4 linked regions of the Homo sapiens genome follow. The protein of the gene in region 1 purifies or fractionates together with the protein of each later gene. This does not show direct contact. Each region holds a gene or a part of one and is shown on either strand. Other genes may lie near its edges.

Region 1 (7,036 bases):
AGAATACATGTGTTCACAATTTTTTGCTTTTGGCAAATACCTCAAAAATCACTTAAAAGAGGCATTTTAAAAATTCAAAATATAATTTGGTCAACACCTAATTACCAGAGACCTTTTCATTTCTGCTTATCCTGAAAGAGGAACACAATAACTGAGCCCACATATTTAATCTGCATGTTTACTTTTCAATAGAGCAAATGGCCACTAGATTAAGGCAGTAGTCATGTCAGATTGTAACCAAATTGTGCCACACCATTCTATTTATCCATATTATTGTATGTATTAAGTCACATACACACACAGAAAAATTTATCTTTCAAGTCTCTCTCACCATAGGAAAAGATTCAAATTTGCAATCCAGACAGGGAAATGGACAAGGTAAGTGACTACAACCCACTCGGTACATTCACAGACTATTTTTTGTTTGTTTTTGAATAAACAAATACATCCCTCAGTCCCCCAAATTGTATTAGACTTACACTAATGAGTAAGCAACATAATAATTATTTACTAAAGAATACAATCAGATGGATTTGACTAAAAACAAAAGTGAGCAAAATACCTAGGAATAACTAAACCTGGAATAAACTGTCCATGTAAGTGAATTTATCCCCAAACTGCCGGTACATAGTGGCCAAAAAGCAATTTATATGTATTTTTAAATTATGTATACACATCTCATTCTAAAAAAGAACCTGCAGTGGTTTACGTCACAAAAAATCTGGTAGACTTAAATGATTCTTCTCCAGGATGCAGTCTTGACCTAAAAGTGAGTCTTTCTTTCTTCTTGGATAAACAAAATGTTACTTTAAAAAAAAAAAAAAAAAAGGCATACCAAGTTTTTTAAAACTTAACCACTGAGTCTTATGAAGTGTAATAGCCATATCACACATACCTCAAAGGTCAAAAATAAAAGCAAAATTAATCAAAGGAACTGAGAGCTCAACAGCTCCCAATTTTTTTTACATTCTCCTACTTACCAATTTATCATTTTCATTGGGCATTTCAAATACGCATCTCAATTTGGAATCCATTAATTCATCAGGTTTTGCCTCTTTCCACTAAAAATAAACAAAACCAAACATGAGACATAGGAGGTATGATCATGGTAAGTAAGTTTCACCTCACGGGACAGCTAAAAGATGAGTGAAGCTGCCTGGCTTGGCTGAAACACACTGGTGCACTCTTTATTGATCACCCTGCCATTGTTATCGGCTAATGTCACAGAACCTTTATATAATCCTAGTTACTATCACCATCCATTAAAATCACGATGATATTACTAGCAACCATAGGACTTTCTTCTTAGCATTTCTTTCTTTTTTTCCAGTTGGTCTCATTCTGTTTCCCAGGCTGGAGTGCAGTCGCCCCTCCTGGGCTCAAGCAATCAATCCTCCCATGCCTCCTGGGTAGCTGGGACTACAGGCGTCCAACACTATACCCAGCTCATTTTTGTTGTGGTGGTTTTTTTTGTTTTTTGTTTGTTTGTTTGTTTGTTTTTGTAGAGACAGGGTCTTGTCATGTCGCCTGAGCTGGTCTCGAACTCCTGGGCTTGAGATACTCCCATCTTGGCCTCCCAAAGGGCTGGGATTACAGGTGTGAGCCACTGCACCAGGCCAGTAGCAGCATTTCTAAATTGTTTCTAAAAAAAAATACTATTTAAAAATTCTTTCATTCTTTAAGTTAGGATTATCTATAATGAAGAAATTGGCAGTTTTTTAAAAACCTAAATTTAACTTTTAGTTTTTAGAAATTAAGTTTTTCTACTGACTGCTAAACAACACCCACAGTTTAAACTCCACTTCCCAAAACAAATTCTTCTTCTATACTTACCACAGCTTCCATATCTGAAGTGTTTGGTGGAGCAAAAATTGTCTGTACCATAAACTTGTGTTTACTCTTTTCATTCGGATCATAGTCAAAGGGCTGTAGCATTACTAAATAAGAAAAAAAGGATATATTATATTGTCTCCTGCATGTCTGAAAGACATACATTGAAACAGTTACAGATTAAATTATACTAAGTCTGGGATTTGCCTTAAACCGTATCTGGCAATAGTATCATTCCTACTACTTCACAAATATGCAAATTTAAAAAAAACCAAGAAGGGTTCAAGAAACCAAACACTGGAATGTTTAAGAATCAACTTAATGGATCCCAAGTATTTTTAAATTGTCTGTCTTTCTAATTTACTAAGTTTTGCACAACCAACAAAATAAACAATTACAATTAAAAATTAAATATGAATCTATGATTTTGCCCTTTCTAAACTCAGCTTGTGAAAATTTTCAAAACTTTGCCAACGTTAACTATAATGCCTATAAGCTCAGATTAAATATAAGTTATTAAAACTATGAATTTAGGCTTCATTTTAGTGTTTTCTGATTTAAAATTATACAACTGAGATATTTAAAGGAGAAATACTCAGTAACTTAAAACCTCACTACCATCTGTTTTTTGTTTTTTAAAACAGGGTCTCACTCTGTGGCTGAGGCTGCGCTGCAGTGCAGTGGCGCAATCTCAGCTCACTGTAGCCTCAACCTCCCTAGGCTCAGGCAATCCTCCCACTTCAGGCTCCTAAATAGCTAAGACTATAGCCACATGCCACCATGCCCAGCTAATTTTTGTATTTTTTTGTAGAGAAAGGGTTTTCGTCATTTTGCCCAGGCTGGTATAGAATTCCTGGGCTCAAGAGATCCGCCCTCCTCAGCCTCCCGAAGTGCTAGGATTACAGGCGTAAGCCACAGCACCCAGCCCATATATTGTTTTAATATAATTAATTTTTCAAAATTGTATTTTAAATAAACATCTATTTCAGAGTTTATGAATTTATTTAAATCTTCTAAGAAAACAAAAGTACACAAGGAAACCATATAGCCTCTTGAGTTCTAAAATTTATTCTACAGTCTCAATAACATTCAAAATTTTTAAGTTTTTTTTTTTTTTTTTTTGAGACGGAGTCTTGCTCTGTCGCCCAGGCTGGAGTGCAGCGGTACAATCTCGGCTCACTGCAAGCTCTGCCTCCCAGGTTCACGCCATTCTCCTGCCTCAGCCTCCCGAGTAGCTGGGACTACAGGCGCCTGCCACCATGCCCGGCTAATTTTTTTGTATTTTTAGTAGAGACGGGGTTTCACCGTGTTATCCAGGATGGTCTCGATCTCCTGACCTCAAGATCCGCCCGTCTCAGCCTCCCAAAGTGCTGGGATTACAGGCGTGAGCAATTTTTAAGCATTTATAATTTCTCGTCTTTTAAGTTTTCTAAGGTTCCATGTGGTTGTAAGTCATGCTAAATTTATGTAACATGAGTCCAATATAACAGACTATACAAAGAATCAATCAACAGTTACACAAAATATGTACATGGCATTATAGAAATTATTTCCCTAACTTTAGATTATTTCTAAGATATATCTCTACACTTTCAAAAAGATAAACACGGGTAAATAAATGTAAGAAATAATTATGTAATAAAGTCTTATTCATAAGGTGTGTCTGAGAAGTCCATTAACTGCTATCAAGGTTAAGACAACTTTTTCAAGGGGCCAAATACACAGCAGCAGGAAATGTACTGGATAAAATGCCTCAGAATACAGCTTAAGCTAAATAAAATTCCATTAGCAACCTTCACTGAGTTAATGATTATAAGCTAATCACTATGAACCAAAAATTTGTGAATAAAACGAAAACTTACAACATGGTTAAGTTTATAGGAGTTATACTCTAATTTAGGTTGCAGACCACATAACAAGACAAAGACGATCTTGAAAACATATATAAAAATGTGCACAAATTGAAGCAAATTCAAAAAACAAAGCGTCAAAAGGACACAGGGAAAAAGAGAAATGAGCATGTAGTACAGAGAATTAACCAGAGAAGGTTGTTGGAAGAAGCATAGCTTTGAGTGACTGTAAATGGAAATACACTACACTAAAAACTGGAAAAGCCAAATTCTAATTAAGTAGAACAATCCAAGGGCATGTTTGCGTAATCAGTAACCAGTTTGTCTGAAGGTTTTAATAAGTCAGGTTTCTGTGGGAGAAAGTGTTTTGATACGTTGTTTTCTCAAGAAATATTAATACACAGAAACCAGCAATCTAGGCCCCTCAAAGAAAAAGTCATTCTGCATAGTTGTATGGATTCCTAGGGATATAACTGTTTGTACCAATAAACTATTTTTAGCCATGTGGATTGAAATAATTATATCTTCTGGCCAGGCGCAGTGGCTCACGCCTGTAATCCCAGCATTTGGGGAGGCTAAGGTAGATGGATCACTTGAGGTCAGGAGTTCGAGACCAGCCTGGCCAACATGGTGAAACCCTGCCTCTACTAAAAATACAAAAATGAGCCAGGCATGTTGGCACACGCCCGTAATCCTAGCTACTCAAGTGGCTGAGGCAGGAAAATCACTTGAATCCAGGAGGCGGAAGTTGCAGTCACCTGAGATCACACCACTGCTCTCCTACCTGGGCAACAAAGCAAGACACTGTCTCAAAAAAGAAAGAATTCTCTCTTCTTCCAATTGTGCTAAAGGCTTAAAGATGTAGTAGAAAGCAGCAACATGCAGAGTGCATGCATTCCTTCATCTTTATTTCCCATCTCTCTTTCCCAGGAACTGATGAATTAGACTTAGCAAAGAAACATGAAAAGCACTCCTCCCAGGCCTCCTTACCGCAAGACTCACTAAAACATCTTTTTCCTAGCTCTTGAGGTTTTTGGCTATACCTGCTGAGGGAAGATTTAGTGTCACCAAGAACTCTATGGTCTGTCCTTCATGGCCTTTGTAGTCAGGCTCCACCTCTAAATACTCTCTCAATGAGCCTACCCTGGGTTCTCTCTCTCTGTACCCAATTCTGCTGTGGACTTGAAAACTGATACAGAATTATTATAATATCTTAGGATTACTTATCAAGATCACCCAGGCTTTTTTTTTTTTTAAGGTACACTTTTTTTGTTTGTTTGTTTTGAGACGGAGTCTTACTCGTGCAGTCTCCGCTCACTGCAACCTCCACTTCCTGGTTTTAAGCAATTCTCTGCCTCAGCCTCCCAAGTAGCTGGGACTACAGGCGCCCACCACCACACCCGACTAATTTTTTGTATTTTTAGTAGAGATGGGGTTTCACCATCTTGGCCAGGCTGGTCTTGAACTCCTGACGTCGTGATCCACCCGCCTCGGCCTCCCAAAGTGCTGGGATTACAGGCATAAGCCACCGCGCCCGGCCTAAATGTAACATTTCTAAGTCATGCTCCTAGAGATTCCAATCTGGGAGAGATGAATCCATGTGTGTTCCTGCTCCCTGTGTTATTACAGCATATAGTGGGAGTTGAGAAGTACTGCTGTAAAGAAAGAGTAAATGCAGCCTGAGAGGTTCTCCCCTAAGTAAAATACATGGAACCATAAAAGTTCTCATATTTACTTCCTATTTCCTATTTCTCAGCTATATTAGTGAAGTCAGAGGGACTGAGAAAGAAAGAAACAGTTTATAGGGGGCATTAGATATGGTACCAGTATCAACTCCACAGCAGGAGTAAGTAATCCATATATGGCAAGCATACTTCTTTGACAAGTAAACACATAAGAGAGTAGTAAAATAAAAATAAAGTTTTCACACACAGGACACTGTTGACATTTACAATGAAAGGCATAAAGACTCATCTGATTTGACACAGTAGGCAAAAAAGTGGCATTGCACCTTTTTAAGCAAAAGAATTATGACACTTCTATAGCTGCATGCAATGTGTAATATGATCATGATCTGAAGGAGAATGACCCATCAGAAAAATGATATAATTTTTCAAAGATAAAATAACAAAGGCAGAGAAGGTAGTGGTTAGCTGTAGAAATAAAGACTAAAGTTTGTAATTGACAATAATTTCTTATAAACTGACCACACTCCCTACACAGAAGATGAGTGAGAAATTTTCTGAAACAGCTTGCAGAGTACTGTAACAAGACATCTTTAAAGGCAAAACCAGAATAATATAAGAATTATTTCCCTCCCTCCAGATGAAACCTTATTAAACAAAAACATAATCATAAAAGGTCAAAATTCAAATGTACATAAATTCAGAACATGATTTGCTACCTGAAACAGTCACAGTTGACCCTGGGTCAATAATTCCACTGTTGGGCCTCACACAGTACCGGCGAGGTGCTGTAGTCTTCACTTTGAAACACACTTTTCTATCCGATGGATTTCGCAATTTAAGATTTGTAGTGACTACATCTGTGAAGGGGCCTGTAAAGTTTAAAAATTAAAGAGAAAACAAAATTTAATTGGATTCTCAACAACGAAGGATTCAAAACTGAAAATATATAACCTCAATTTTAATTAAGTGCTGACATTTGTAGGCATAAATATCCCAAATGGCTACTAACACTGCCTTTCTCGAGGTGGCAGACTTAAAAACAAGTCATATTTTCTTCTTCATTCCCTGTATTTCACAAAATTTCTACCATAAACATGTATGATTTCTATCAAAAAAGTACTATGAAACTTTGGATCTATGAACTTTACAACTGTATTTTTACAGTATGTTGTTAATACGTTGCTGAAAATAACAGAATTTCCCAGTTGTCTGCAAACCAGTGTCAATCTTCAAGTTCATTTTACTAGGCCAACTGCAAAAATCTCTACATCTGAAGACCCTACACCCTATGACATCAGTGCTTTTGCTTCACCTCAATTTTGTTTGTTCATTCATTCAATCCATTCATTCATTCACATATTTGTTAAGTGTTTATTATGCCATATGCTCTAGATACAAAGTTTTTAAGCTTTGGTTCTGCACCCAAACAACATAAAATTACAAAACAAAGAACCCAAAAGGCTGATCCATTTTGCTGAAGAAAAGCCTGAAGAAAAATTATGCAGATTAATTTAGACAACAAAATAAATACCTGTTAATTTGGAGGAAGAACATAAAAACATGTTCCAGTTGGGAACAATAACCACAGTTCTAAGTATTCCAAAAGTAATTTTAAATCGTTCTAAAAACAATTCGTTTAAAGTTATGTATTTTTTAAAAAAGCTAGAA
Region 2 (7,036 bases), on another chromosome or scaffold:
CATAGGTCGGCTACCCTGTTCCATTCAGTGAGGCAACTGCAACCCACCACACAGCCCCCATTCCCCACCCCAATAGCAGAAGGCTAGGGTTTATTATGGAGAAAATGAACTTGACAAGTTCCAGGACTGGGACCTCAGGCACAGGGAAAATGGGAAAGAGTTGCCATAGGGCAAAAAGGGGAATTCAGCATAAGCCTATGAAGATACTGAACTGTGAAGGTGCCCAGCACCCTTGTATTATACCACCTCCTGCCCCTTTCCTGGCAGGAGATCATTCTTCTTTTTAAAAACTGACTGGCACTGGGCACAGTGGCTCATGCCTGTAACCCCAGCACTTTGGGAGGCTGAAGTGGGTGGATCACCTGAGGTCAGGAGTTCGAGACCAGCCTGGCCAACATGGAGAAACCCCGTCTCTACTAAAAATACAAAATTAGCCGGGCGTGGTGGCGCGTGCCTGTAATCCCAGCTACTCGGGAGGCTGAGGCAGGAAAATCGCTTGAACCCAGGAGGTGGAGATTGCAGTGAGCCGAGATCACGCCACTGCACTCCAGCCTGGGTAACAAGAGCGAAAGTCCGTCTCAAAAAACAAAACAAAACCACACACACACAAAACTGACTGGCTCTGGGGAAAAGACCTACAGATCTTAACATCTTGGGGTATTCCAACAAAATAAAACTGACCCCTGCCCAGGCACCCTACAGTGAAGCTCACCAGTTGGCAAATTCCACCTAAACAGGCAGGCTTGTCAACCGGCTTTGTAATGCTTTGTTCTTAAAGACAGATAAACACCACTAGACACCTGAGGAAGGCCTCTTCCGTAAAAGTCAGAAACCAGGAGAAAAAGAAAAGGAACAAAGAGGAAAGACAGATAATATAGGAAGTAGGACAAAATCTGAAAACAAAACAAAAACTGTAATTAAGTGTGAAGATGGAGGGTGCTGTCCTCAAGGTCCGGGCTGCAGTACTTCTGCACTTGTTACCATTTCTCTTCGGAAATTAGAAAACGGGCATTCTCAGGAGTACACAGCATCAACTACCAAGGAGGCACCAACGAAGAGGCTACTCTGCTCCACAGCAGTTCCCCAGTTCCCCAGGAGAATGACTGTGGGCCTTCCGAAGCCCTCCTCAAGCTTGAGTAAAAGGAGCCTGCATGGACCCCAAATCAGCAGAAACCCTTTCCCTTCTTCCGCCTCAGAGAAAGCCTTTCCCTTCTTCCGCCTCAGAGAAAGCCTTTCCCTTCTTCCGCCTCAGAGAAAGCCTTTCCCTTCTTCCGCCTCAGAGAAAGCCTTTCCCTTCTTCCGCCTCAGAGAAAGCCTTTCCCTTCTTCCGCCTCAGAGAAAGCCTTTCCCTTCTTCCGCCTCAGAGAAAGCCTTTCCCTTCTTCCGCCTCAGAGAAAGCCTTTCCCTTCTTCCGCCTCAGAGAAAGCCTTTCCCTTCTTCCGCCTCAGAGAAAGCCTTTCCCTTCTTCCGCCTCAGAGAAAGCCTTTCCCTTCTTCCGCCTCAGAGAAAGCCTTTCCCTTCTTCCGCCTCAGAGAAAGCCTTTCCCTTCTTCCGCCTCAGAGAAAGCCTTTCCCTTCTTCCGCCTCAGAGAAAGCCTTTCCCTTCTTCTGCCTCAGAGAAAGCCTTTCCCTTCTTCTGCCTTAGAGATTTGCCTTGCTTCTCTGACCTCCCCGCATCCCAGCCCAAGAGCCCTTTCTGTACCCGTAGAGAGCTGAGGATGGGGGCATTCAAGTGACTTTGTCATCACCCTAATAGGAAATGTAAGTGACTTTTACAAGTTTAGTCCAAGTACTGTTTTCTTTTTTTTGGAGACAGAGTCTTGCTCTGTCACCCAGGCTGGAGTGCAGTGGTGCGATCTCGGCTCACTGCAACCTCCACCTCCTGGATTCAAGTGATTCTCCTGCCTCAGCTTCCCAAGTAGTAGCCAAGCCTGGCTATTTTTGTATTTTTAGTAGGGACAGGGTTTCACCACGTTCCTCAGGCTGGTATCGAACTGCTGACTTCAAGTGATCCACCTGCCTGGACCTCCTAAAGTGCTGGGATCACAGGTGTGAGCCACCGCGCTGGGCCCTGTTTTCTTAATAACAATGCTAAATGTGATAAGATTCTTTTCTGAGAATCCCAATTAAAGCATTCTGTTTCCTAGTGTTCTTACTAGGTTCACTTTATAGATTTCAAAGGAAAAAAAACCAGCCTGAAGGGTCCTTGTTGAAAACATTTCAAATATAAGGTTCATTTATGGCATCCTTGAAAGTAATTCAGAAACTCTTTGAGGAAAACAGAAACCTTTTAACTATACCAAAGAGGTGAGATTAGAGACAGGTGTTCATCAACTTCTAACAATCAGGAATTCTCCTTAGCATTACATGAAAAAGAATAAAGATCTCCCATTCTCAATTTGTCAAAATCATTCTCTTCTTTTCAGAGCCCAGTTAAAAAAAATAAAAACCAGGCCGGGCATGGTGGCTCATGCCTGTAATCCTAGCACTTTGGGAGGCTGAGGCGGGTGGATCACGAGGTCAGGAGTTCGAGACCAGCCTGACCAACATGGTGAAACCCTGTCTCTACTAAAAATACAAAAAAAAAAATTAGCTGGGCGTGGTGGTGTGCGCCTGTAATCTCAGCCACTTGGGAGGCTGAGGCGGGAGCACTGCTTGAACCCAGGAGGCGGAGGTTGTGGTGAGCTGAGATCGTGCCATTGCACTCCAGCCTGGGCAATAAGAGCAAAACTCCGTCTCAAATAAATAAATAAATAAATAAATAAATAAAAAACATAAAAACCACCCCGTGATTTCCTCAATACTTATCAACCACTCCTTCCTCTGCTATGACTCAGCCCACTGCCTTTCTATCTGCAGCAAAGCAGGAATCATACTGCCCTCTGTATTTCACTACGTATTAAGTTTTCTGAGTGCAAGAATTGCATGTCATTCATCTGTGTGTCCCTGGTGCCTGGTGCTTTGCTTAGCATTTAGCTGAACATGGTGTAACTCGGCTGACAGGAGCTCTGACATTCGCCTCTCCCCATAACATAGATGCTCTTTGCAGGCAGGAACTTAACTCTTTTTCGTATCCATATTTTCCACATTACCAGTAGAAACCAAATATACATTTGCTAAAATATCTATATAGGTGCTTCAGAATTCACCTTGCAGAAAATGTTCATTATTCTCACACACTTATCAACATATTCATCTAACAACAAAAAAACTATACAAAATATACGGTAGTATCATGCTGTGTTTTTATAATTCTCAGTAACCCTCTGCATAGCTTAATTCCCATACCCTGAGCCTATAAGCCTATATCAACAGCCAAATCGAATATAACTTCACTACAATGTCTTTATTACACAAAAGAAAATGATAATTCACCTTCTCTCAATGACTCTCCAGAGCTGGCGCCAAAAGTCCAAATTTCGTTCAAATGGAGTCAATATCAGCTTCTGTTCCTCTTCTAGCCTAGTTTTTGAATGAGAAGTTTATATATTTGCCAGATTATAATAGACAATTTTTAGCAGTGTAAATGCTCAAATTTATTACATTAAAAATAAGTACTGGGCACAAATATCCAGAGTCAAATTATTTTATATATTTCCTGCTGAGACACCATAAAAATACTATTTATTTAGACAATACTCCACCAAATTCAAATTTTATCCTGAAGCTATTTATGCCCTGGAAGTTTACCTATCACACAAAGTCATTTCTTTCCCACACTCTTACTGGAAAAATGTGCAGGAGAGCAGCGATCAACTCCAGGATGCCCAATGGCCAAAGAAGGGAATGAAAGGAAAAGGCCCGGAACTGAGCAGAGTAACCAACTCACGATCTCTGTGCAAGGATGCATTTGCACCTAGCAATCTTGTTTGTGCATACATCTATTTGCACTTGTTAGCAGAATGCTACCATTTCCTTCTTAAAAGAATCAAAACTTCAAAACACAAATGGCTGTGTAAGCATGCCAAATATCTGAACTCAGGATTTCAAAGTAAGTCTTCATAGAGTCTATAATACTCACCGGACAAGCTGACGTCTCCATTCTAGAAAGTTATCTTTCTCTGCTTGTTTGAGTTCTTCTGGGGTAGTATTTTGGTTCCAGTTTGGTCTGAAACAATCATAGAAGGAAAAAAATTCCTCATATAAGTAACCAAAATAAAATAGGTAATTTGGATCTAATAATGGCAGCTGAGAAAAAGAAGCAATTTAAAAAATGAATACTCAGCAGCCTCGGATGTTTTGTGGCATTCTAAATTCTTCTTCAGCTCACCTCCTCGGTATACACAAGAACTGTTTGTTTTCTTCATGGAGCTTCTTAATTCTCTGGCTCTCCTCGAAAGACAGTAGTCCAGTTCTAGCCTCAGCAGGCACAAACTTAATATTAAGTTTCTCTGTTCAAATAAAGAAAAGTACTATTACTTAAGAGGCAGTATAGATACAGAGTGTTTGGTCATACTGATAAACTGAGAAAACTAAAAATGAGAGCCTAAGAGAACTTAAGATTTCTTGATTTAGATTCTTCTAGCCTTGGGTAAATTATTATTCCCAAATGAAGTTTTATACCAAATAACTATCCAGAGTTACTACATTCTTTTTGACTGCCACACAGTATTTCATACTGTGTCTATATCACATTTTCCCTGCTATTGAACATTCAGTTTCCAAGTTTTCATTATTAAAATACAGCATCATCTGGTAGCTTGTTAAAAATGTAAATGCTGCAGCTCTAACCCCCACTCACTGAATAGATGCTCTGGAGTCTAGAGGATAGGGCCAGGAATCTGTATGAAAGAGTTCTCCGGGCAATTCTGCTGCTCTGGGGTAGATGCTGAGAAGTAGAGGTGCTGGCTCATAGGATATGAAACTGTAAACTTGCTTTCTTTGTCTTCTGTTTTTTTTTTGAGACAGAGTCTCACTCTGTCACCCAGGCTGGAGTGAAGTGGCACAGTCTCGGTTCACTGCAACCTCAAACAATTCTCCCAACTCAGCCTCCTGAGTAGCTGGGACTACAGGCCCGCACCACCACGCCCGGCTAATTTTTGTATTTTTAGTAGAGACGGGGTTTTGCCATGTTGGCCAGGCTGGTCTCGAACTACTGACCTCAGGTGATCCGCCCGCCTCGGCCTCCCAAAGTGCTGGGGTTACAGGCATGAGCCACCGCACCCAGCCTGCAACTGTAAACTTCGAACAGATACTGCCAAAACAAATCTTTCCAACTTCCCTCTCTACTGTCTCACCCCATAACCTAAGAACATACTACCATTAACCCTGATCCTTCTCATACACACCCTTACACTTCTCTTTCCCTGCCATAGTCAGCTATCTCAGGAGAATACAACTTGCTCATTCCTTGATTTCCTCACCTCCCACTTCCTGTTTCTCTAGATTCCAGCTGTGGCTCTCTCACTCCACTAAAACTGTTCTGGCAGATATTACTAATGACTTTAAGAAGAAAATAGCAGCCAGGTGCGGTGGCTCACGTCTGTAATCCCAGCACTTTGGGAGGGCAAGGTGGGCGGATCACAAGGTCACGAGTTCGAGACCAGCCTGGCCTACAAGGTGAAACCCCCGTCTCTAGTAAAAATACAAAAATTAGCCAGGGGTGGTGGTGCATGCCTGTAATCCCAGCTACTCAGGAGGCTGAGGCAGGAGAACCGCTTGAACCTGGGAGGCAGAGGTTGCAGTGAGCTGAGATCGCACCACTGCACTCCAGCCTGGGCGACAAGAGAGAGACTCCGTCTCAAAAAAAAAAAAAAAAAAAATATATATATATATATATATATATATAGCTTTACTACAATATGATTCACATACTATACAATCCACCCACTAAAGCATACAATTCAATAATTTTCAGTATATTCACAGAGTTGTGCAGCCATTGCCACAATCCATTTTAGAATATTTTCATCACTCCAAAAAGAAAGCTTTACCCATTAGCAGTCACTGTACACCCCCAGGTACCTGGTGGAAATCATCTACTTTCTGTAGATTTGCCTCTTTAGGACTTTTTGGTGTTTCCACTTTTTGGTGATTACGAATAATGCTGCTATGAATACACATGCACATATTTTTGTGTAGACATGTTTTCATTTCTTTCGGGCATATACCCAGGAGTGGGACTGCTGGATCAGATGGTAATTCCATGTTTTACCTTTTGAGGAACTGCCAAAATTTTTTTATAAAACAGCTACACCATTTTATACTCCCACAGCGATGTATGGTGTTATAATTTCTCTACATCCTCACCAACATTTGTTATAGTCTCTTTTATTTTAGCTATCCTAGTGGGTGAAGTGGTTATTTCACTGTGAAACCCAGGAGTTTATTTTTGTCCCTTCACTCTTTTTCACTTACACTACCCTCTCCATCAAGTCTGGTTTACTCTAGCTCCTTAAGTGTTCTTGTTCCTCTTATTTTCTCCCTTCTTCTACTACCTGTATTTCAGTTCTGGCCTATTTTGCTAGACTAAAGTGATACAGTCTCCTAACTCATCTTGCTTCCTTAAAATTCATCAGTGATCTTTTAAAAAATGAAATCTCATGTACCCATGAGACATACCTGCACTCCCATGTTCCCTGCAGCGCTATTCACAAGAGCCAAGATATGGAACCAACCTCAATGCCCATCAACGTATGAATGGATAAAGAAAACGTGGTATATGTAGTATACAATGGAATACTATTCAGCATTACAAAAGAGGGAAATGTTGACACTTGTGACAATATGAATGAACCACTCTGCTATGAGAAATAACCCAGGCACAGAAAGACAAATACCACATGATCTCACTTATACGTGGAATAAAGCCGAGCTCATAGAAGCAGAGAGAAAATGGTGGTTACCAGAGATTAGGGAGTGGGGCAAATAGGAGGATACTGGTCAAACGGTAAAGTTTTACTGAGGCAGGATGAATAAGTTCTGGAGGTCTAATGTACAGCCTGGTGTCCATAGTTAATAATAACACATTTATTAGTTAATAATATGAAATTTGCTAAGACAGTATATATCTTGTTCTCACCGCACACACAAAAAAA
Region 3 (2,974 bases), on another chromosome or scaffold:
GTACCCCTGGCCTCAAAAGAAAAGTGAGCCCTCTCCATGTTTTACTTCCCAGATGGTTTATGCTTTGTAGTCAGACTGGAAAATCCAACAACACAGTGATTACTTTTCAGTCTCATTGAGTTGAGTTTTCTTCTTTTTCTCAAAATAGCATTTGTTCCACTTTCTCTGTCAGAAATAAGATGGTTCCAGATACTTGATTCACCCAGATGCTTTAAAGACTGTGGACCTAAGTAGGCTTCTATTGTGACTTCTGGCAGTGACTCTTCTCGTGAAACAACACTCACTGGGTAGGAGTTAAATGTTCTTATGGACTTACCAGAAAATATTCATAAATGTTTATCTGGTACATTTTTAAATGTGTTAAATACTTTTTCCATATAGATATGATTGCTCTTCATATCAATAACTAGAAATATTTAACCAGGAAAAGTTGAGCTCACTTAGAGCCACCAATTTAATAGAACTGTTGAATCCCTGAAAATAAAACACAGACACAGATATGTATTCAATCGAAATATATTTGTCTAATATCTACAAAGTGTGAACAACTGGTCTTAAGAAAGCAGACAAAAGGCACAAAATTAGTATTACTACAGAGAAGCATTCATGCTATTTGGATTTGATAAATATTGGAGTGGCACAGTAAAAAATAAATTAAGCATTCAGCAAAAACCAGATATTTCATTTTTTCCTTGCTTTGTATTTTCGTCACTCCTTTGACCTCATGTGTAAAGGCTAAAAACTGAAATTTAACTGAAACCATGGAATATTTATGCAGGCGTTATGTATGTTTTAGTCACAGTGCTTTCTTGCAGAGTTTGGGTTAACCAGAGAGGTGCACTTGAGGAAAAAATAATCCACAGGAAATTCTCTTCTCTTTCCCCAAACTAAATACAAGATTGAGGCTGTGGTTGTGCATGTTTTCATGTGCATGCATGTATTTAACTTCTAAAGCCCTTTTTCATCACAAAAGAAGTCTCCATATGATTGACTGGTTTTCTGATGTAAAAGAAGCAACTTCTCAAAAATGAATGACTAGCGCTGTGACCATGAGAGACGGGTGGAAAACTCCTTGGTGGGCCTTGGCTCTTAGTTGTCCCAGAGGTGCTCCATCCTGCAAGGCTCTGGCATAAATCTTTAACAGCTTCCTGCCAACCCCCATCCAGCAGGAAATACTTGCTTATCTTTCTTGGGCGCGGACAGACAAAACACTGAGGTGGGGAGGGAGGTGAGAATCACAATAATTTTGAAATGATAACCACCCATACTTCTACCAGGAATGAGCCACTTTCTCCCTTATGGACAGTGATCGGGCCATGCCAGTTCACCTTCATTTTGACAGGAGTTGACTAAGTGAGAATATCTTTGTGAGTGTAAAACATTTTTGGCAAAGTGAAAAATAGAAAAACTTCAAACTTCATTGATAAAAAGGAGCTTATGATTACCCACTTTAACCTTGGTGAGTGCAGTATTTAAATGTGTAATCATACTCAGATGTTTACATAGTGCATGTGTGTGAACGTATACGGTGTGTACACACACGTGCCCCGAATGGCTCTTGAATAAATTCATTCCTCTAGCAGAGTGTGGGGGTGCACTTTTCATAGTATATAATTTCTCTCTCTCTCATCATTTCTTGGATGCTAATACAAGGTCTCAGTGAATGCCAACAAAACCCTGATACTCTACTACTTTAATATTCCTACAAAAACAGGGCTATACTGGAAAGCTCTGCACCTCCACCCCATCAGTGTGCTTTCCAGAGGGGATTGAAGTATACCCAGCCATCGCCCTGCAAGAGAAGAAAGGAGGCATTATTACATGGAGACCTCTCAACAGGGAAAAGGGGAAGCAAGGATAACCGCAGCCACTCTGTGTGTCTGCCGTGTCTTAATACCTCACACGCAGGCCAGGCTGCTGGCCTCAGTACCCCTCCTCAGCCCAGCTGCTCTTTGGAGATCTAGATGACCTTGACCTTCCTACCCTGGCATGGCAGGAGGAAACCCCAAGAAATGAGCAAAATAAAAGGGGAGCTTGGTTGGCTTCCATCGAGACTGATTACTTGGCCAAAAAAAAGAAGCACTTTGACAGTGGGACAAGAGAAAAGGAGAGTAGCTAGATGAATGGCCAGGGGAAAGAAAAGGCAAGGGTGTGCATACCAGTGACTTCCAGCCCACAGGGGAACACCCAACAAAGGCTCTCTCCAGCAGGCAGTAGTCACAAACAAATCAGCACACACAAGAAACACCATCAATCAAATATCAAGTGAGAAAAAGGCAAGAATTAAAATGGTATTAATACCATCTAGTTATGACTAGAAGGCACTATACTGAATAACTGTGCTGGTGTTCAGATGACTCTTATTCCTTACATGTTCCCAGCCCTTCTGTTATGGGCATACTGGCTTTTCTTAAACTCAGGAAGAACTGTAAATGTTTTTTCTTGTTGTTGTTGCTGTTTAATGCACAGCCTTCCACAGAAGCCAGACAAACTAGCTCTCTCAAGCTACTAGCTCCCTCAAGAGAAAAGGGAGCTAACCTCACAGAAGGATCTTTCAAGGTTTTACCTCACCTGGGCAGGGCTCCCACACAGGGTCCCCACTCAGTGACCCATAAAGGCAAAGTCTTCTCCAGGCAGCTTTCCTGTCTGAACCAGAATCCAACCTTGAAATCTCCTTCAGTCCACAGCCTGACTCTGGGGAGAACAGTGGTGGCTTCCTGCTCTTCCTGCTCTTAACCATGAATCCACCCCAGTTACCTACTATGTTGCCCTAACTCACTTCTCAGCCTCGTATATAGACAGAATAATCCCTCTTTGTAGCAGAAGTCAGGGGTTACCAGCACCTGGGCTAAGGAAAGCCCACAGATACATTTTGATTGCCTACTGGTATTTAAATTTTTTTAAATCTTTGACCATGCAAATATGAGATTTCTCATAAAAATTTAGATTTCTGGCTCCTCATGAACAACTAGAC
Region 4 (7,963 bases), on another chromosome or scaffold:
AACTAAGTAATTTTTTCCTTAAAAGCTCTCAGGAAATGAAGGGTCATTTCCTGATTCCTTATTCTATATTAGGTCCCTCTGTTATAGGCTCTTATAAGACCAGGTTTCTTTCCCTTTCTAGCTCTTACATAAACTCATAATTACAGACTTGTATTACTTGATTTGTGTCTGTAATGCACTAGACTGCACATTTAGTAAAAGCAGAAACCGTACCTGTTTTACTAACCACCACATCCCTAAATCCGTAATGTGCACTGTGCTTGACATATGGGGATTCAATAAATATTGTCAATGAACAAATGATAAAAAGAGTTATGGGCTTCTATACAGTTCTCTCAATAAATTATCTATATAGTTCATAACATATTGTACTCACAAGATCTTTCATTTAAAATTAAACTCAAGGTTTGAGACTTCAAAGTCTTAACATTTTCTCTCATGAATTGTAAAATGCACACTACAGTGTAAAAGCCAAAAACCAAATTTTCTACTTTGCAATAGTTCTTATAACGGTGTTAATAATTATTTCCATATGCAAAGCTAAAGGACTTAATATTCCACTTCAGGATATTTTTAACTAGGGGAAAGTGATCATTTTTCCATTCAAAACTGATGTTTCCCTACCCCACCCTCCAAGATTTGAATTACATTTTTCTAACTACCTTCAAGACATCAAATTATTTCAAAATCAACAGGTTCAAATCTTCTCACTTTGACACTTCCTTACATTCATTCTTACAGGCAAAAAACTACAGTTCACATTTGATTTTTCCCACTTTTAACGTATCATCAAGTTTATTACCTAAATCTTCTCTGAAATATGTTACAATCCTCCCTTCTAGGTTCCCTTTGTATTCCAGTCCACAAATCACCATCCTAATTATGAATCAAGTTAAGTCTCCCACCATTATTCTACATCATGTCCTAAAACCACTTTCATCATATCACCTGGCCACTCTAAAACGAAGGGTCTCTCACTATTGTCTTAAGCAGTGGTTCTTTCTAAGTGTGGTCTCCTGACCAGCAGCATCTGAATTACCTGAGACCGTGTTACACAAGCAAAATTTTCAGTCCCACCTCAGACCTACAGAATCAGAAACTCTGAGGATGGGGCCCAGCAATCTAAGACTCTGATGTACATTAAAGTATGAGAATCACTGGTCATAGGAATACTGAATCTGGATTCCTGTATTTAGTTTGGGAAGATGTCCATAACCCAATCCCGTCTTCCTTGTTAACCTTATTTATTTCCCTTCAATAGACAGTCTTCACTCTAGTGAAGATATATTTCTTCATTCAGTCCCTTCAAAGATTCATTCTCACCTATGTCTCTACCCATGTCAGTCCATTCTCATGTTTAACCAACCACTTCCCACTTTCAAGGCCCAGCTCATTTCCTATCTTTTCTATGAAAATATCTCCAACTATTGTAGTCCACAATATCACCCCTATTTAAATAATAATTATTTTAATTATTATTTTTACAGGTAGTACCAACTGGCTTACATTTTAACTATTTGCTGTTTGTTGTTTTTTAAAAATATATGGGTCAAGTTTCTGCTTTTCCCTTTGTATATAGCTCTGGACACCCAGTACCTACTCAATGAAGTCTTGCCAGTGTGGTTATGTCTTACTGACACTTTTATGAAGGGTACCACAGGTCTAACTATTATTCCAACAAGGACCTTTTATATTTTCCTGTGCCACCTAATGACACGACATCCACAAATTTCCTCTCCCAACCAGAAAGATTATAAAATGCTGTAACAGCGTAAACACTGACTTCAACACCCAGGAAACTGAAGGGTTTCTGTGACACTTAACAGAAACCTTCTCGATCTAAGCTATCACTCCTCCACAAACTTGGCTTTCAACTAATTTCAGTAATAGAACAGTTTCACCCAGACAGCTGTTCATCTGAATTTGACAGGCACAGGAAGCCTGGGCACAGTACCCACTTTAATGTAACAACTTAAATCAAAGCATTCCAAAACCATATGCAGACTTTTTAAAAAGGTTATTCTAAAAGACAGGATGGGCGGAGGCTCACGCCTGTAATCTCAGCACTTTGGGCGGCCCAGGCTTGAGCCCAGGAGTTCAAGACTAGCCTGGGCAACACAGCGAGATCTTTAAAAAATTAGTTGGGCGTAATAGCGCGTGCCTGTGGTCCCAGCTCCTCCCGAGGCTAAAGCGGGAGCTTCACTTGAGCCTAGGAGTTCGAGGCCGCAGTAAGCTATGACCTCGCCACTGCACTCCGGCCTGGGCGGACAGACTGAGACTCTGTCTCCAAAAATAAATAAAAATAAAAAATTAAAGACAGCATGGAGATGGTGGGAGTGTGACAGATGGACAACTACCAATACTCTGAAGAAAGACTTCCTCCTGAAAAGGGTATACCAACGTACACGGGATGAGGTGCGGCACAACCTACCAAGTTTACTGCTTACGATAATGAGTTAAACGGTAATGAAAACCGGAACGGTTGTTGCAGCCTCGGAAATTTTTCTTGCGAGTGGGTAACAACCAGAAAACCAAAGTCTAAGGGAAGCGGTCTGACAGGAGAGAAAACAAAACTTTCTGAGAGCCTGAGCCTCAGGGATTGGCTGACGGGGGCGGGCCGGGTGTTGCCAGACGCGAGACGCGGAAGAGGCTTGCGGTTGACCAAAGAAGACTGGGGGAGGAGACCCGGGACCCACGGTATTACCGTTCCCGCACAAGTGGCGTCACTTGTGGTGTGTCTGGGGTCAGGGAAGCGGCTAGGGGACGCCAGGGCCCATGGGAGCTGGTAACCAAAAATGCGATTCACTCACCTTTCCCATTCCGAGGCAGTGGTGAAGTCCGTGATCTCAAATACCTCGGATTCGGGCTGCGGGAAGGGGAAGGAGAGAAAAAGAAATTAAGCCCCAAGGCGAAGACATGAGGAACGAATTTAGATAGTGACAAGGATTAAGTAGGGAGCAAAGAAATCACCTCACTGTCGGCAGCCATCTTGAGGAGCGCCGGGCCTGGCGCTAAGGCTGCCGGGAAGAAGAGCGAAAGAGAACGGGGCGCGTCCCCGCCCCCGGAGCCCCCGCCCCCTGTTCATGAGTCTTGCCCTAGTAAGTAGGAGTGCTGCTTCTTCGCCCAGGTCTGTTAAGTCTTTAGTCCGCCCTCAGCTGGTTAATAAAACTCCGCTCTAGCTGGTTTCATAAAACTTGAAAATTTCCTGTGATGAATACAGAAAGGGAACAGAAGCCAAGGTGATAGGACAAGACCCTAAACTCATGTGGATAAGATTGTATTAAAAAACCTAAAGCATGTTGGGTTTGTTTTCATTCAACCCATATTTGTAGTTAGTACCAATTAGCTTACACTTTAACTATTGGGTTTCTTTTCATTCACCCTCTATTTATTGATTGTAAGGCAATAAACTAGGTGCTGTAATACCACTTCTACCCTCTGCCCCTGACCCTGCAAGAAGTTGCTCAGTTGATTGTCCTGAAATAAAATCATACTAGTTACCTGGTTTCTGGGAAGAGCAACATGGTGTTCAACAAACGCTTCATTTTTTTTTTTTTTTTTTTTTTTTTTTTTTTTTTTTTGAGACGGAGTCTTGCTCTGTCGCCCAGGCTGGAGTGCAGTGGCACGATCTTGGCTCACTGCAAGCTCCGCCTCCCGGGTTCACGCCATTCTCCTGCCTCAGCCTCCCGAGTAGCCGGGACCACAGGCGCTCGCCACCACGCCCGGCTAATTTTTTGTATTTTTAGTAGAGATGAGGTTTCATCGTGTTAGCCAGGATGGTCTCGATCTCCTGACCTCATGATCTGCCCACCTCGGTTCTGTCGCCAGGCTGGAGTGCAGTGGCGCGATTTCGGCTCACTGCAATCTCTGCCTCCTGGGTTCAAGTGATTCTCATGCCTCAGCCTCCCGAGTAGCTGGGATTACAGGCATGCGCCACAACACCCAGCTAATTTTTGTATTTTTGGTAGAGATGGGGTTTCACCATGTTGGCCAGGATGGTCCCGATCTCCTGACCTTGTGATCCGCCCCCCTCGGCCTCCCAAAGTGCTGGGATTACAGGTGTGAGCCACTGTGCCTGGCCTTGTCTTTATTTTAACACCTTCAAGTTATTTATATATATTCTGCATCTGAGCTTTATATTGTTTATATATGTAGCAAATACCTTCTCCCACTCTGCAGCTTGCTTTTTCACTATTTTTTTTTCAGACTGGTGCTCTAAAAAAGCAGACACTACAATTCCAAGCTGGCGAAGTCTCTGAAGTCCAACTGGAAGTGCTAGGGCAAAAATTATGCATCAGGAAATGCGTAGCCCCTTGTACTACTGCCTTGCTCCGTCAATCATTGGCCAGGATCTCCCCAAGAAAACAGTGGCCTTGGCTATCACTGTTTGCTCAGTTTTTGGCTGGAGGAAGCACTCCAAGAATAGCAGGTCCTTGGCTCAACAGTTAGACAAACCTGATAAACCCAACAGCCGTAGGCTGTTCATCTAACCACACGCCTTACAGCTGGGCAGTGAGTCTTTCTTTAAGGGAGGTCTGAGCAGCACATCTTTTGTGTCTGCCACTCTCTTTTAATAGACAGCCTCTTTTAACATGCACCTACAATGTTTTCGACATCCTGTGCTTTCTCTTTCCTCTGGACATGCTGTCGTTTAGAATCTGCAATGTCCTTGTGTCTATAGTTTACCTGGTAAAATTTGTCCTTCAAGTTTCAGCTTGGATATTTGCTCTTCTGTGAAGACTTTCTCTGCCCCCTGTTAGGAGCTTATTTGTATTTGCAACCAGTTTGGTGGTAATCGATTGGATTCTCACTCAAAATTCATATGTTGAAGCCCTAACTCCTAGTACCTCAAAATGTGACTGTATTTATGGACAGGGTGTTTAAAGAGGTGATTAAGTTAAAATTAGGCCGCTAGAGTGGGCCCTAATCCAATCTGACTAGTGTCCTTATGAGAAGAGATTAGGACACCAGGGATGTGCACACACAGAGGAAAGGCCATGTGGGGACACAGAGAGTAGGTGGCCACCTGCAAACCAAGGAGAGAGGCCTCAGGAGAAACCCAACCTGCTGATACCTTGGTCGTGGGCTTCTAGTCTTCAGAGCTGTGAGCAAATAAAAAAATATTTTTTTGAGATGGAGTCTTGCTCTGTCACCCAGGCTGGAATGCAGTGGTGAGATCTTGGCTCACTGCAACGTTCACCTGCCAGATTCAAGCAATTTTCCAGCCTCAGCCTTCTGAGTAGCTGGGATTACAGGCATGTGCCACCACATCCAGCTAATTTTTGTATTTTTAGTAGAGACAGCATTTCACCTTATTGGCCAGACTGGTCTCAAACTCCTGACCTCAGGTGATCAACCCTCCTCGGCCTCCCAGAGTGCTGGGATTACAGGTGTGAACCACGGCGCCCAGCCCTGTGAGCAAATAAATTTTTGTTGTTTAAGCCTTCCAGTCTGTGGCATTTTGTTCAAGCAGCCCTAGGCAAACATACATCCCCCACCCTCAACCCAGGAAGTCAGACACTCCCCTTCCATGCTTCCTTAGAGCTTTTGACACAGCCCTAGGGCAGCCTGATATTGTCCTTGTTTTGTATGCCTATCCCTCCACTATTTCTAAACATTGAGTTTCTTGAAAAAGAGAATGGTTTGAATGACTCTATCTCAAAATGAGAGACAAAAGGAGGATTCCTTTTTTGTTTAAAGACAGGATGTCTTTCTGTTTCCCAGGCTGGAGTGAAGTGGCATGATCATAGCTCACTGCAGCCTCAAACTCTTGGACTCAACCAATCCTCCTGCCTCAGACTCCTGAGTAGCTGAAACTACAGGTGCCCACCACCACGTCCAGCAATTTTTTCTATTTTTTGCAGAGACATGGTCTCACTATGTTGCTCAGGCTGGTCTCAAACAACTAAGCTCAAGCAATCCTCCTACCTTGGCCTCCCAAAGTGCTGGGATTACAGGCGTGAGCCACTGCGCATAGCCAGAAGATTACATTTTTTGGGGGGGGTGGGAACGGAGTCTTGCTCACTCTGTCACCCAGGCTGGAGTGCAGTGGCACAATCCCGACTCACTGTAACCTCCGCCTCCTGGGTTCAAAGCAATTCTGCCTCAGCCTCCCGAGTAGCTGGGATTACAGGCACTAGCCACCACACCCGGCTAATTTTTTTTTTTGAGATGGAGTCTTGCTCAGTCGCCCAGGCTGGAGTGCAGTGGTGCGATCTCGGCTCACTGCAAGCTCCGCCTCCCAGGTTCACGCCATTATCCTGACTCAGCCTCCCGAGTAGCTGGGACTACAGGCGCCTGCCACCACACCCGGTTATTTTTTTTGTATTTTCAGTAGAGACGGGGTTTCACCGTGTTAGCCAAGATGGTCTCGAACTCCTGACCTCGTGATCCACCCACCTCAGCCTCCCAAAGTGCTGGGATTACAGGTGTGAGCCACCACGCCTGGCCTAATTTTTTTATTTTTGGTAGAGATGGGGTTTCACCATGTTGGCCAGGCTGGTCTGGAACTCCTGACCTAAGGTGATCCACCCACCTCAACCTCCCAGAGTGCTAGGATTACAGGTGTGAGCCACCACATCTGGCCAGGATTACTTTTTGAGAAGCCAATTTAAAGATTCATGGATTGCAGACAAGCTGGAACCCTAGGATAACCTGGCAGAAATCCTAAAAGTCAGAAACTACGGTACTTGCACCTTCCTCTGTTAGGCTGAGAGAGTACTCACCTTGATGGGAGTAGAAGCAAAGTAGAGCATAGGAAGCAAAACAGAGTAATAGCCTGTGTGTGCTTAAATTGGTGTCAAGCAGCTTGAAGTTGAATTGGTAATGAGGGAGTTTACGTAGATCTAACAATCTCTGAATGGTTTTTACCCTGAAGTCTTCATCCACTAAAGGAGAGAGAGAGAGAGAGAGAGAGAGAGAGTGTGTGTGTGTGTGTGTGTGTGTACGTGCTTGCGCATGGTAAAGGTAGTATTGCAACATTGTGGCCAGGCCGCTTAGGTTCAATCCCTAGCTCCACCATTCATTAGCTCAAAAGTTCTAAGCCTCAGTGTCATCTTCTGTAACGTGGCAATGATGCTGTTTATTGTTTCAACTCCATAGAGTTGTTATGAGGGTTAAATGACATTAATCATGTCCTTTATGGACTAACGTAGGAACTAGTCAATAAATGTCAGCTGTTGTTATTGCGATAGAATATCGTACCCCATTCAGTTGAGAATATATAATGTTACGCCCTACCTTAGAAGAGAAACCCCTGCATCCTTTGGTAAGTGGCAGAAAAGAATTTAGCAGCACACAAATGCCGGGTGACCTTATGGAGTGCCCTGTGTCCACTTCCTCATGATTATGTTTTCATAGTCCATGATTTGAAGTCTTTTGCAGTTGGGTTTATTACCACTGGACTCAGACAAAAATGCAGTCTGTTTACTGAAGCTTTTGCTTCAGAATATCACAAGCATATCTAGAGAAGAAGTATGTTGTAATGTAAGGATTTCTGTCTGCTAGCGCTTTCTCAAGGCTGAGTCTAAGAATGCAATCAGTTTGGTGGTAATCGATTGGATTCTCACTCTGTGACCTATATGCAGCTTTGAAAGGGGCCCTTCTGGCACCTTGTGGGGATTACAAAGGCATGGATCTCTTAGAGAAAGTCTCAGTGCATCAGGTGATCACAGTAATTGTGCCAACCATGGAAGTACATAGGGGTTTGGTAGTTTTAAAGCACTTAAGCAACAACTTGGAAGAGCATACAAAACTTGTTTTCCTTCCTGGATGAGACTGTCCTGCTTTCAATTCTCTAAGCTAAATGCACAGTGGATGGTTGCCTAGGAGACAACCTGTAAACTAAGCAGTCTATTTGCAGCTAACTAAAGGGTTTGTGCATGCAGGACCAGCTTAATTAAAGACAAAATTTAAAAGGAAAAATTATTTGGGCTGTACAACACTGAAAAAAAAATCTGAATCT

The links.
Region 2: the proteins of VAPA (region 1) and LSG1 purify together in Homo sapiens (co-immunoprecipitation; 5 studies listed by BioGRID and IntAct, with this or other methods). This does not show direct contact.
Region 3: the proteins of VAPA (region 1) and OSBPL10 purify together in Homo sapiens (co-immunoprecipitation; 5 studies listed by BioGRID and IntAct, with this or other methods). This does not show direct contact.
Region 4: the proteins of VAPA (region 1) and RAB3GAP1 purify together in Homo sapiens (affinity purification with mass spectrometry; 5 studies listed by BioGRID and IntAct, with this or other methods). This does not show direct contact.

What each region holds. Positions count from the first base shown.
Region 1 is NC_000018.10:9,931,011-9,938,046, reverse strand, and holds part of VAPA (vesicle-associated membrane protein-associated protein A), read right to left. Parts: intron 6,238-7,036; coding exon 6,085-6,237; intron 1,938-6,084; coding exon 1,834-1,937; intron 1,062-1,833; coding exon 981-1,061; intron 1-980. UniProt on the Homo sapiens protein: Endoplasmic reticulum (ER)-anchored protein that mediates the formation of contact sites between the ER and endosomes via interaction with FFAT motif-containing proteins such as STARD3 or WDR44.
Region 2 is NC_000003.12:194,662,183-194,669,218, forward strand, and holds part of LSG1 (large subunit GTPase 1 homolog), read right to left. Parts: intron 4,391-7,036; coding exon 4,270-4,390; intron 4,108-4,269; coding exon 4,021-4,107; intron 3,462-4,020; coding exon 3,375-3,461; intron 1-3,374. UniProt on the Homo sapiens protein: Functions as a GTPase. May act by mediating the release of NMD3 from the 60S ribosomal subunit after export into the cytoplasm during the 60S ribosomal subunit maturation.
Region 3 is NC_000003.12:31,660,325-31,663,298, forward strand, and holds the end of OSBPL10 (oxysterol-binding protein-related protein 10), read right to left. Parts: exon of another isoform or gene 1,799-2,974; intron 1,793-1,798; coding exon 1,748-1,792; 3' UTR 501-1,747; downstream 1-500. UniProt on the Homo sapiens protein: Probable lipid transporter involved in lipid countertransport between the endoplasmic reticulum and the plasma membrane.
Region 4 is NC_000002.12:135,047,333-135,055,295, reverse strand, and holds the start of RAB3GAP1 (rab3 GTPase-activating protein catalytic subunit), read right to left. Parts: upstream 3,005-7,963; 5' UTR 2,989-3,004; coding exon 2,971-2,988; intron 2,867-2,970; coding exon 2,811-2,866; intron 1-2,810. UniProt on the Homo sapiens protein: Catalytic subunit of the Rab3 GTPase-activating (Rab3GAP) complex composed of RAB3GAP1 and RAB3GAP2, which has GTPase-activating protein (GAP) activity towards various Rab3 subfamily members (RAB3A, RAB3B, RAB3C and RAB3D), RAB5A and RAB43, and guanine nucleotide exchange factor (GEF) activity towards RAB18.